Regions from separate parts of the Homo sapiens genome. Here region 1 is linked to region 2. The links come from fine-mapping of genetic effects on gene expression. A gene starts in region 2. The other region holds a variant in brackets. All regions are shown on one strand. Distances are between the middles of the regions.

The links. PIP is the estimated chance that this variant, and not a neighbour inherited with it, causes the effect.
Region 1: its variant is the best candidate, but not a certain one, in a credible set for the expression of ANGEL1 in prostate (GTEx, PIP 0.85).

The regions. Positions count from the first base shown.
Region 1 is chr14:76,769,236-76,774,603 of GRCh38, reverse strand. It overlaps VASH1 (vasohibin 1), which reads right to left. Exons shown (of 7, transcript NM_014909.5): 2 at 4,553-4,641; 3 at 3,358-3,414; 4 at 1,393-1,467. Among named protein-coding and RNA genes, the nearest start is that of VASH1, 10 kb to the right of the region's middle. The variant GT/T (reference allele first, on the strand shown) is at 2,812.
Region 2 is chr14:76,810,038-76,815,405 of GRCh38, reverse strand. It overlaps ANGEL1 (angel homolog 1), which reads left to right and starts at 2,524. Exons shown (of 10, transcript NM_015305.4): 1 at 2,524-2,642. The coding sequence starts at 2,579. RefSeq lists a silencer at 2,457-2,886 and enhancers at 2,335-2,908, 2,909-3,483.

The DNA.
Region 1 (5,368 bases), 41 kb after region 2:
GAGCCCCTCACCCAGATGGGGGCTGTTCCTATTTTATTCCTGCCCACAAGCCACCAGGTGACCCCTGAAAAGCTTTGAGACCATAGGACCCTGCCTGGAGTGACTTCTGTGTGTCCTCCTGGGGAAAAGGACCAGTCTCTCTCCTATGAGGGTGGGAGCCTCCACTTTGGTGTGTGACCCCTGAGGGAGAAGTGAACGTGAAGACATGAAGGAGGCACTGCCTGCAGCCTGAATTTCTCGGGTGGCCTCAGGCTTATCCCAGCAAAGAACCCCATAAACAGGGCAGGGATGTCGGGCTCCAGAAATGGGCCTGCCCTGTTAGCAAATGCCTGCCATAGTGGCGTTCCCTCCGAGACCTCTGCGGGAAGAGAAGGGCACCCGCAGCCTCTTTGTGTGAACTTCAGGCAGGCATGTCTGTGTGGGGGGTGGGGATGGACCCCTGGATCACAGTCCTCCCAGGACCTGCCCTCAGATGGGACTCCTGTTCCATCAGACCCCCTCCCCGTCACCCTCTTGGCTCCCACCTAATCTGTGCTCCTCTGCAGCACTGAGCCCAGTGGGCTGCCTACCCCAGGGGCGCAGGCAAAATGTTTAAAAGCTGGTAAAGAATACGGGCAGGGTGGAAGAGATGAAACAGAATTGGCTTTGAGTTGGTGAAGCTGAGTAACGGGTGCACAGGAGTTCATGATGTTGTTCTAGGTTTCACGTGTATTTATGACATTTTTAATAATAAAATGACTGAGAAGAAAAGGTAGGGCTCAGGCATTGACCAGTTAGGATGGAGAACCAGCCATAAACACTTCCTCCTCTCCCGCTGTTGACTGTGGGGCTGGGGAGGACAGCCTCTCCTGGTGGCTGGTCTGTCTCCAAGGCTACCCTGGTGACTCAGCTACAGGCCCCACTTCTGCCCTTTGGGTTGGAGGCGGGGGTGTGACTGGAAAACCTTGTTTGTGGTTTTTTTTTTTTTTAAGGCAGTTTTGCTTTAATATCTCGTCCAGAAATCAACATGTTCTGGAAATGCCAACATCTGGGCATTCCAACTGTGCCTCCCAGACTGTCTAGTTCTTGGAAATGGTACAACTGTCTTTGTGAGACACTGTGCCCTGATTTGGGGTTCAGAAAACGGTCCCTGTATCCACGTGACTCAAAAAAGAGCTGCCCAGTAAGCCTGGGAAGGTAGCAACTGAGATGTGGGGTACTGGGACCTCGGGGCTCCTCCATTTTGGGGGGTTCTTCCACTTTAGTGGGGTGCTTCTCCATCTTGGGGCCAAGCAGATGACTGCATATGGGAGAGCCCTGGAGCCCATTCAACCTACCCCACCCTCACTTTCAGAGCAGGAAGCTGAGGCCCAGAGAAGCCCGGACCCCTCCCCTTCAGGTGAGGAAGGATACATTCCCAGGATCACGGCTTCCAGGCATTTGATTGGCAGGGCCTCTTTGGTCATTTCCTTGGCCAGGTCCATCAGCCTGTGGGAAAGGGAGGCAGGTCAGTAAGGACAGCGCCTCCAGCCCCTCCAGGGGAATGTGAGAAGGAGGGGGCAGGGTGGACTAGAAATGCTAGAAGGACAGAGGCTGCCCCCTAAGCTGCTCTCAGCTCAGGCCCAGCACCTCCCTCCACACTCCCGACGGACGGAAGTCTGGAGCCTGAGGGGGTGGGAAAGAGGCGGCCACTGCTGATAGGAAGGAGGCCCACTCTCCCTGCTCTTCCCTTCTTTCACTTCCACCTCCCACGCCTGGCTCTTGCTCCAAAGAGCTCTGGGGGAGGGCAGCAGAAGCTGGGGGCAACTTCTCTCCAGCCACCAGGCTGGGGCCTTCTGCGAGGCAGTCGGGGGAGGAGGGACGTCAGCATCGATCTCTTCCCTTCTGAAGCACAGTAGACACCACTGACCCAACCATGGCTTCTCCCAGGAGCTTGTTAATTGACTGCAACTGCCTCCCCGCAGCTGCCTGAGCCTGGATGTGGGATCTTAGGCAGATAGTTACCTGCTGACTACAGATCTGCTCCTGAACTTGGAATTCAGGCCATTTTAAGACAGCCTTTCCCTGAGGCGTGGTTCCTCCCTCTGTCCCCAGCCTGGGAATTCAGCCTGGTCACTGGCTTTGCCCAGGAGGGCACCCAGACTCCTCCATGCCAAGTAAGGCTGGAGTGGTTCCCCAGCACACAGCAGCCACAGGCCAACAAAAGCAAAGCTTTGGGGATAGGGAGGGTGGACTCCATCCAGGGCCTCGGAGAGGGTGTAATTAAGTAATTTTGCTAATAAGCCATTTAAATGCATTTTCACAAAGAAGCAAACATAGATTATGTGTGGGGCAAGATGTAAACTTCATATGAAATTTTTTTTCTTTTTCTTTTTCTTTTCTTTTGAGACAGAGTCTCGCCCTGTCACCCAGGCTGGAGTGCGGTGGCGTGATCTCGGCTCACTGTAACCACCGCCTCTCAGGTTCAAACGATTCTCCTGCCTCAGCCTCCCAAGTAGCTGGGATTACAGGCACCCACCACCACGCCCAGCTAATTTTTGTATTTTTAGTAGAGATGGGGTTTCACCATGTTGGCCAGGCTGGTCTCAAACTCCTGACCTCATGATCCGCCCACCTCGGCCTCCCAAAGTGCTGGGATTACAGGTGTGAGCCACCGTGCCTGGCCAATTCACATGAATTTTTAAAGCCCAGGGGTCTTAAGTCTGTGGGCATCTTTGGGCAGAGCCCCTAGACCCAGCTGTGGCATTCACTCTTCACTCTCCTCTGCCCTCGGGGCTTCATGGGCAGAAACTTTCCAGGGGAAGTGAATCCAGGCAGGGGGCTACACACGGG[GT/T]GGCGGGATGGGAAGTGAGAGATGCAACATTCTCTCCAGGGAGCTCCCTGTGCTCAGACCCTGAGCCTGCTACTCAATGCCCAGAAAAGAGTCCACGGAGTAAGGCAAATGGGGTGACCATGCAAGTACCCTGCAATGGGAATCAGCAATGGGGAGTGCGGCAGCCGCAGAACAGAGAAGGGAGGGCTCTCTCCTGCAAGGTCCACCTCTCACTAAAAAACAAAAGATCTGAGGCTCACCTACAATCCACCTAGGACCACCCTCTCTCCTGGCCAAGGCAAGAGCTGGGGGCGGCTCTCCCACCCTCTAGCTCAGCATGGACCCGGGATTTCCTTTTCATCAAGGCAGCCCTGGCTGTTCATCTCAGCCGGATTTTTCTCTTTATGACATCCATAAGGCCCCAGGGTGGCACCTGCCCCCAAAGGCTGGCTTCCTTCAGAAGAGTCCCTGACTGCCCCATAAACTTCCTCTCCAAGGTGCACTATAGGGCTTTCAAGAAGCTCCAAGCCAGCCCTGGGGCAGAGGACTGGCCTCCCCATACTTACCCTGTCAGAGGTCTGCTCTTCTTAATTTCAAAGAACTGTGTCCCTGTGTGATTGTACCTGTGGGCACGGGTTAAGGGCTTCCTAGCTTGGCCTGAAGGAGGTTGACCCTCTCTTCCTGCCTATCCTGAAGCTCAAGAGCCAAGTCTCCTGGAGGGGAGATGGGGGCACAGCATGAATTCTTCTCCCCGCCTCACGCCTCCTTCTCTTTCCCTCTCCCTCACCCTCCTTGGCTTTCTCCCTTGTTCTCCCCTGGCTTCTCTTCTTAGGACAAGAGACATGGAGCAGGCGACCAGTTCGGCGAGGGCCAGAAAGAGGCTGTGGCTGGGAACAGCGCCCTACAGCACTTCATCTTCCAACCAGCTGAGAAGCCACAGGAACTGAGAGGAGGCTAGGGTAGGGGGTCCAACTCAGCCTTTAATTGCTCCTGAGCCAGCCACCTGCCTCACTGGACCAGTTTCCCCACTGGCAGAAGGAGGAGCTGGACCCGATATGCAGTCATCAGCCTGGCTTCTCCCGACCCAGGACCCATGCCTAGCTCTCCCATCTCTGACCTCTGCAGCCAGAAGCCTGGGAGAGAGGACCCAGGACACACAGCTCTGGGGCAGGGTGCAGGGGCAGGGTGCAGGGGCTAGAGCAGGGACACAGAGGAATCTGGGCCCAGGGGAGCCCAGCTCTTCCCCTGCTGGCCAACCATCCTACTGCCAGGGAAAAAAAGGAGAAGAACTGGAGAAAATTCTAGGATCCTGAAGTTACCTCCTGGAGCAGAAAATCCTTTTTCTCTGCCATTTTTCCCTTTATTCAAAATCAGACTTTTAAAAGCCCCAAGGCAGCTCCCTCTCTCCCCCTCTGCTAGGGCTGGGTGGACAACAGAGCAGATCTATCTAGACTTGGCCACCCCACCAGCAAGTCACTCAGGACCCATTTTCCTCTCTTTACCCCATCACACGGCAGGAGCGGGAAGGGGGTGGCAGAGAGTGCAGAGTGGGCCCTGCACTCATCAGACAAAATTCCTCCGACACCCAGGAGGCACACGCGCCGCGTCCCACAGCACCAGGGAGCACAGAGATGTCACGTGAATGGTGGCCCTGGCGTTGTGGAATGAGGCGGCTCTGCTGATACCTCTCCAGCTCTGCCTGGAAACAAGGCCCACCACACCGGCCAGAAGGTGGCCATGACCCTTGACCAGAGAGGATACTGCAGCTCTCTGATGTAGCGCTGCACAGCTTCCAGGCGCTCAGGGACAGGTGTAGACGGCTGGAACGTAGGCACACTCGGTATGGGGATCTGGGGACAGAGAAAGAGCTCCGGTCACAAGAAGAGGCTCACCTTGGAGCTTCCAGTCCACCAAACACCTAGGACTGGCCCCAGAGGCGCCCCACCCTGGGGAGGCACAGCCTCCCCTCCCTCCCACTTGAGCTTCCTTTCTTGGCACCCCACTCATTCGAAGACTCTTGCCAGGGCCCCAGCCCAGCCATTCCTTCCCTCCTGGGACTTAACAGCATTCCTCATTCAGAGTGTATGCTGATGTTCCAATTTTATGCTTCTTTAATAACTTCAGAAAAACATAGGTTAATTCACTGACTATTTTAAATTTTAAATATTCATTAGTTTCAAGACTTAAGAATATAATATTGGGGTTATTTTAGGTTTGAAGTTTGCTCTGGTTCAAGCGCCGGATCAAAGCTGGTATATCCGGGGTCCCATCTTCTCAGGTGGTGCCCTAGGCTTTGGGAGTGGTCCTGAGGGGGGTGAGCATCCTTGGTAGGGGACCCACCCAGTATCATGGGCATATTCGCCATGCCTTCCAGAGCACCAACTTGAACTGTCAAGGAGTCAGTCAGCGGTAGCAGGCCAGAAGGACATATTTTGGAACAGGTCTTGCTGTAGCTCTGTGGCTGGGGCATGCACAGAGGGGCCGGGTCCTCCTCCAAGTCTTCTCTTTCCTGCCAGCTCCACACCTAGTCAGTACAGGTTTCCAGGTACCCAGACAGTCTTCCTCCCCAGAACGCAC
Region 2 (5,368 bases):
GTGCAGATTGCACTTGTAATTTTCCTCTGACTGGGGAAGCCTAAGGCTCCACTCCTTCGGCCAAGTCTCCTTGGAACCTGTAGTTATTGGCTTGCTTAGTAATACTCATTACAATTTGGAGGGCAGGAGCTCTATTTTAGCCAGAAATTGTGGAAGAAGATCCTACATCAGCCACGTCTGGAGCTGCTTTTCTGCCCAAATCCAAAAATGTAATAGTAAACATTGAGAGTTTATACTGGGTCAGGCACAATGAGGAAACTGAGGCCCCAAGAGCTTAGGCAACCTGAGAGATTCCACAGGTAAAAAGTGGCAGAGCCAGGATTTCAACTCAGTTGGTCTAACTCCAAAGCTTGTGATCCTTATATCACCCTACACCTTCCAACACGGCTGATTATGGACCAGGAAACAAAAAGAGGGAAGCCTCACTTAACTGGCCGCAGAAAAAGCCTCTGAAAGAACATAGATCAGTTGGGCTGACACATTGTGCCCACACTGTGCACTGAACAGCCCAGTTGAGACTGGATCCTTTAGCAGAGGTTCCCAAACCGTGCATTGGAATAAGTAAGTGTTTAAGGGCCTCATTCCAGGGCTGCTAAATCAGAACTCTGGGAGTAGGGCCTAGAAATTTGTATTTTGAAAGCATTTTCCCAGTGGAGATAAGGGAACCGTTACCCTTGATTAGGATCTGATTTGGAACTTGGACTTCTGGATAACTCATGGTACAAAATGGAAGGAGGGTACAAGGAGGGTTTTACTTAAGCTACATCAAAGGAGGGGGCCTGACCTCGGGAGCGCCTTTGGTAGATCCACCATTTGTGCACTAATTTCTAAGCAGCTTCCCAACCTTCAGATTGCTGGGCCTCTGTTTCATCTCAAAGGGATAAGTGCTGTTGCCTGAAGGCAGGCAGACATTGCCACCTCTAGAACTAAGGGTAAGTAGTGGGAAGGCCACAATACTAACTCTCTCCTTCTTCCTCCTATTAGCCTTTCAGTGTTATGATGTACCCAGCTGGTCCAGGATCTGGTGACTCCCCAGAAGGCTTCCCTGAACAACCAAGGCTCCAGCCACAAACTGGAAATCGTGCAACTCAGACACTGGGTACTGAAACTGGGTGCATTGTCCAGTCCCTCCTTCAGAGCCTGTTTGGGGTAGAAGATTGGGGGAGGGGGACTGGGGAAGAGAGACTCAAAGAGGTCGCAGGTGGCACAGAAGTGATGGCAGAACTGGCCTTCATTTAGTGACATATGCTTTGTTCAACCAGTCAGTAAAGGCTTATGTGGTGGCTAGTAGTGCTAGCGAATGCAGATTCGGCCGCTTGCAAAACCAACGAGCAAGGTCGTGGTATGGTAGAAGGAGACTGACTTTATTATAAACCAAAGCTAGCAGTGGGGAAAAACGATCCAGGCTTTTGCTTTAATGGAGCTGCTTCACATTTCCAAGCAAAATGCGAGGCTTTAAGAAGTTTTGGCATGGAGGGTATGCAAGGGGTGAGGCAGTGCAGGTCTTCATGACGAGTTCTGATGACTTGTCTTGAGTTACTGCCCATCTGGTGAATGGGCTGGCATCATCTCGGGCTGGGCTGAGTTATAAATTAACTGTAGCCTTGAATCAATCTCCTGGTGGAGATTTCCACAGATGCCTATATTGTTTCAAGATTTAGTCTCTGGAACTTTTAAGCGAACATACAATTAGATATGCTAACAGTGTGTATGGGGGGTGCTGGGGTGTCGGGGGGTGCCTAGTGGTTAACTGAACAAAAATAAAGAAATAGAAGTATATAACAAGAATATAACTTCCAAGCTGGGTACTTGGTTACAATAGGTGCTTGGATTGTATTAGAGATACCTCAAAGTGAGCAAACAACCAGCCAGAACTGGTCCCTGGCCTTGTGGAAGTTTCTCTCTTCTGTCTCTCTCCTCTCTCCCTTCTCTCTCTCCTCTCTTTGTCCTCTCTCCTTTCTTTCTTGACTTCCTTACCAATGGGAAACCCTGTTTTTCTAGATTAGGGAAAAGAAGGCCCGTTTAGAAAGTAGGGAAGGAGACAAAGTCTTACTTCCTGAAGCAAGGTAGGACTCAATTTGTGACCTAGAATCTGAGACAGGGAAGTAGAGGCAGGAAAACGGGGGAAATGGGGGAATAACTCGCTTCCTTTCTGGGTCGAGAAGGGCTAGAAGTCAAGGTTCAGTGGAGCCTTAGAGAAAGTCCAGCTCTTCATTTTACAGGTGAGGAAACTGAGGGGCGGAGAGGCTATAGTGTGGTAACAAGGTGGACACCTAGTCAGCTGCAGAAGTGGGAATAAACTGTGGCCTTTGAATAACACTATGGGGCCTCCAGTGAGGCGCTCAATTTTAATTCGGGACGCCTGGGTGGCAGCCGGGTGCTAGGGGTGGCTAGTTGCCATGGGAACCGGCTCCTCCCACTTCCTGCGTGCGCACCCGTAGACCTGCGCTCCCAATAAAGTTGTTGTTGAAGCGCGGCGGCGGCACCACGTGGGCCGGACCGGGCCGGGGGCGGGGCCGAGCTGAGGGAGGACCTGCTGGCTGCAGTGAGGAGCGGAGGCGGGCGCGGGCGGCCGGCCATGATCGCGTCGTGCTTGTGTTACCTGCTGCTGCCGGCCACGCGCCTCTTCCGCGCCCTCTCAGGTACCGGCCAGGCGTACCGACAGACAGGAGCCCGGCCAGGGCTCGCCTCTGCGGGGCTCCGCGGGCCTGGGGCGGCGTGCGGTTGGCCGGGCCTCACGACTACCGTGCCCCGGGCAGTGCCGAGGTGTAGGGAGGCGGTCCTGAGCCCCTGCCCCGCGGGCCCCTCCTGACCCCACGAGGCCTGGACCTGGCCGACGTCCCTCGTGGGCGGCCCCTCCTCCCGCCTGTTGTCAGATGGCGTCCGGCCGCGGTTAAGGTGGAGAGGAGCTGTGGACGGGCAGGGCCCTTTCCTGGCCCTGGGGGTGCAGAGAAATTGTGGGGTCGGCCAAGTCAGCACCCCGGCGGGTCGGGAAGGGGTAGTAGCTCGGACCTAGGCGAGTGCCCAAATTCTCAGCGGGCGAGGCGGGTCGGCTCTGGGAGGTTTATGGCCGAAGTACTGGACGCACCGATCTTCCCCAGGTTAACTTCACACTCGCCTTTCACTGCCACCTGGCAGCTCTCGCTCACCGGTGTCTTTGGTTGAAAAACGGACGTTCAATCAGAGACACATTTAGATCTCAGCTTTGGAGCATTCCTGCCCCCACTCCCGGCGGTTTAGAGGGAGATGTGCTGGGGTGGGGGCAATGCCCAGTCGATACCTCAAAGAGGGGGTGTTTATTTCGTTATTGTTTCATAATTTGTCTGCATTCTCTATTTCTGGGCTTTGAAATTACGGAGGGTTTTATGCGACCATCAGTTTCTGAGATCCCATGGAACTCGCAGACTTTTTGCCTTTAATTTATGGGACAGGACCAAGAAGTACTTAGGAATGAGGGCTCCAATTGTATATTCTGTGGTTTTCCTTTGTGGAACTTTACACAATTGGTACGCAATGTGTGTGTCATTGATAATATATATTTCATATAGAAATATTTTAAATTTTACTGTGTATCTGCCATTAGAATGCAAACTTCAGGAGCGCAGGGCCACGTCCATTTTGTTCGCTGTATCTCTGGTGTTAACACATTGCTTGGTATACAGTAGGCACTCAGTGAATTCAGGAATGTCTTGTGTGTCCATACTTCTGAGGAATGTGGGAAACTCCACAGAAGTAATTGTTTCCAGAGAACTAAACATATTCTTTTAACTATGTTGCTGTTTTTCCTGGAGCTCTTCTAATGCCTTAGTGATACAGTATACTAGTCCAGAGGTTTCCAGACCAGTAGAGTTCTAGGGATCTCAGAGGAGGGCCCCCCCCGCCCCCCCACCTACACATTACAGTAGTCCCACTTATATTTACTTGGCATATTTGGTTTCCAGATAAGATTTTTAAAAAACAAAAGCATTCTGCTGCTGAAAATCCACCACCACCACCACCAAAAGACATCTACCAAAATTGAAAGCTAGTAACTTCGTGCATATGAACCAAAGAACCTCTGCCATCTGGTATACACAGAGGATATTTCAAGGGGCAGATAATCAGGAAGTCCTTGAGGCTAAAGCTCAACGACCCAGCCCATACATAGGTTTAGAGCAGGGTTTCTCAATCTCAGCACTGTTGACGTTTTGGACCGGATCATTTGGTGTGGGTCTGTCCTGTGAATTGTTGGAAGTTCAGCAGCGTCTCTGTCCTCTAACCACTAGATGCCAGTAGCAATGCTGCAGTTGTGACAACAACAGTGTCTCTGAACGTTGCTAAATGTCTTCCGAGGGCAAAATCACCGTGGTTAAAACCATTGTTTAGAAGGACATAAATATACATAGACCCCAAACAAGATATTTGAACCGTCTTTCAATATTTGAGCCACTTTTAAGGTTTCTTCCCTTTAAAAAAAAATTGCCAATAAAATGAGTCTAGTGATTGAGGGCCAGCATCGTGCATGTTACTCGTCCTGTGCTGTAAATAAATGGTTGAGTGTGTGAGTGTAGGAGTTGTTTGCTCTCACCAAAATACTGTGCTCAGAGTTTGGGGGCTCTAATTTTAGAGTTTTTCCCACTTTCTTTCTTGCCTGTTGGCTGTCATTGGTGGCTGCAGTATCAGAGAGATGTCAGCTGTCTCTTACTGTCGATTGTTGGCACCTTGTAATTTATAGCCTCTGATGTGTTGTGGAATGGGAAAGCAGATAATGAAGTTTGTGAAGATTTTATTACAATAAGTAGCTTTGAGAAAAGGCTTAAGGGCCCTTGCTAAGATGTAAATTGTATAGATTTTTGAGACTGTCTACTTTAGGACTTTTTCTTTTGGAATACATTAATAGATTAGGGAATTTATACAGCTAGAAAAGCTCAGAGATTATCTAGTTCAAACTTGTCTCTATTTTTTTAAATTTAAAATTTATTTTTTTCTTTTCTTTTCTTTTTTTTTTTGAGATGAGGTCTCACTTTGTCTCCCAGGCGGGAGTGCAGAAGGGCAGTCATAGCTCACTGCAGCGTCAACCTGGGCTCAAGCAATCCTCTCATTTCAGCCTCCCAAGTAGCTAGGACCATGGGCATGTGCCACCGTACTTGGCTAATTTTTAATTTTTTGTAGAGATGAAGTTTCGTTATGTTGCCCAGGCTGGTCTCTAACTCCTGGCCTCAAGTGATCCTGCTGCCTCTGTCTCTGCCTCCCAAAGTGCTGGGAGCCACCACGCCTGGCCTCTTGTCCCCATTTTACAGTCAAGAGTAACTTCATCTGACTAGGGGCATTGTTCAAGGTCAGTTTTATTAATTTTGGTGCTAGATCATAACCCACAGTTCTGATTAAC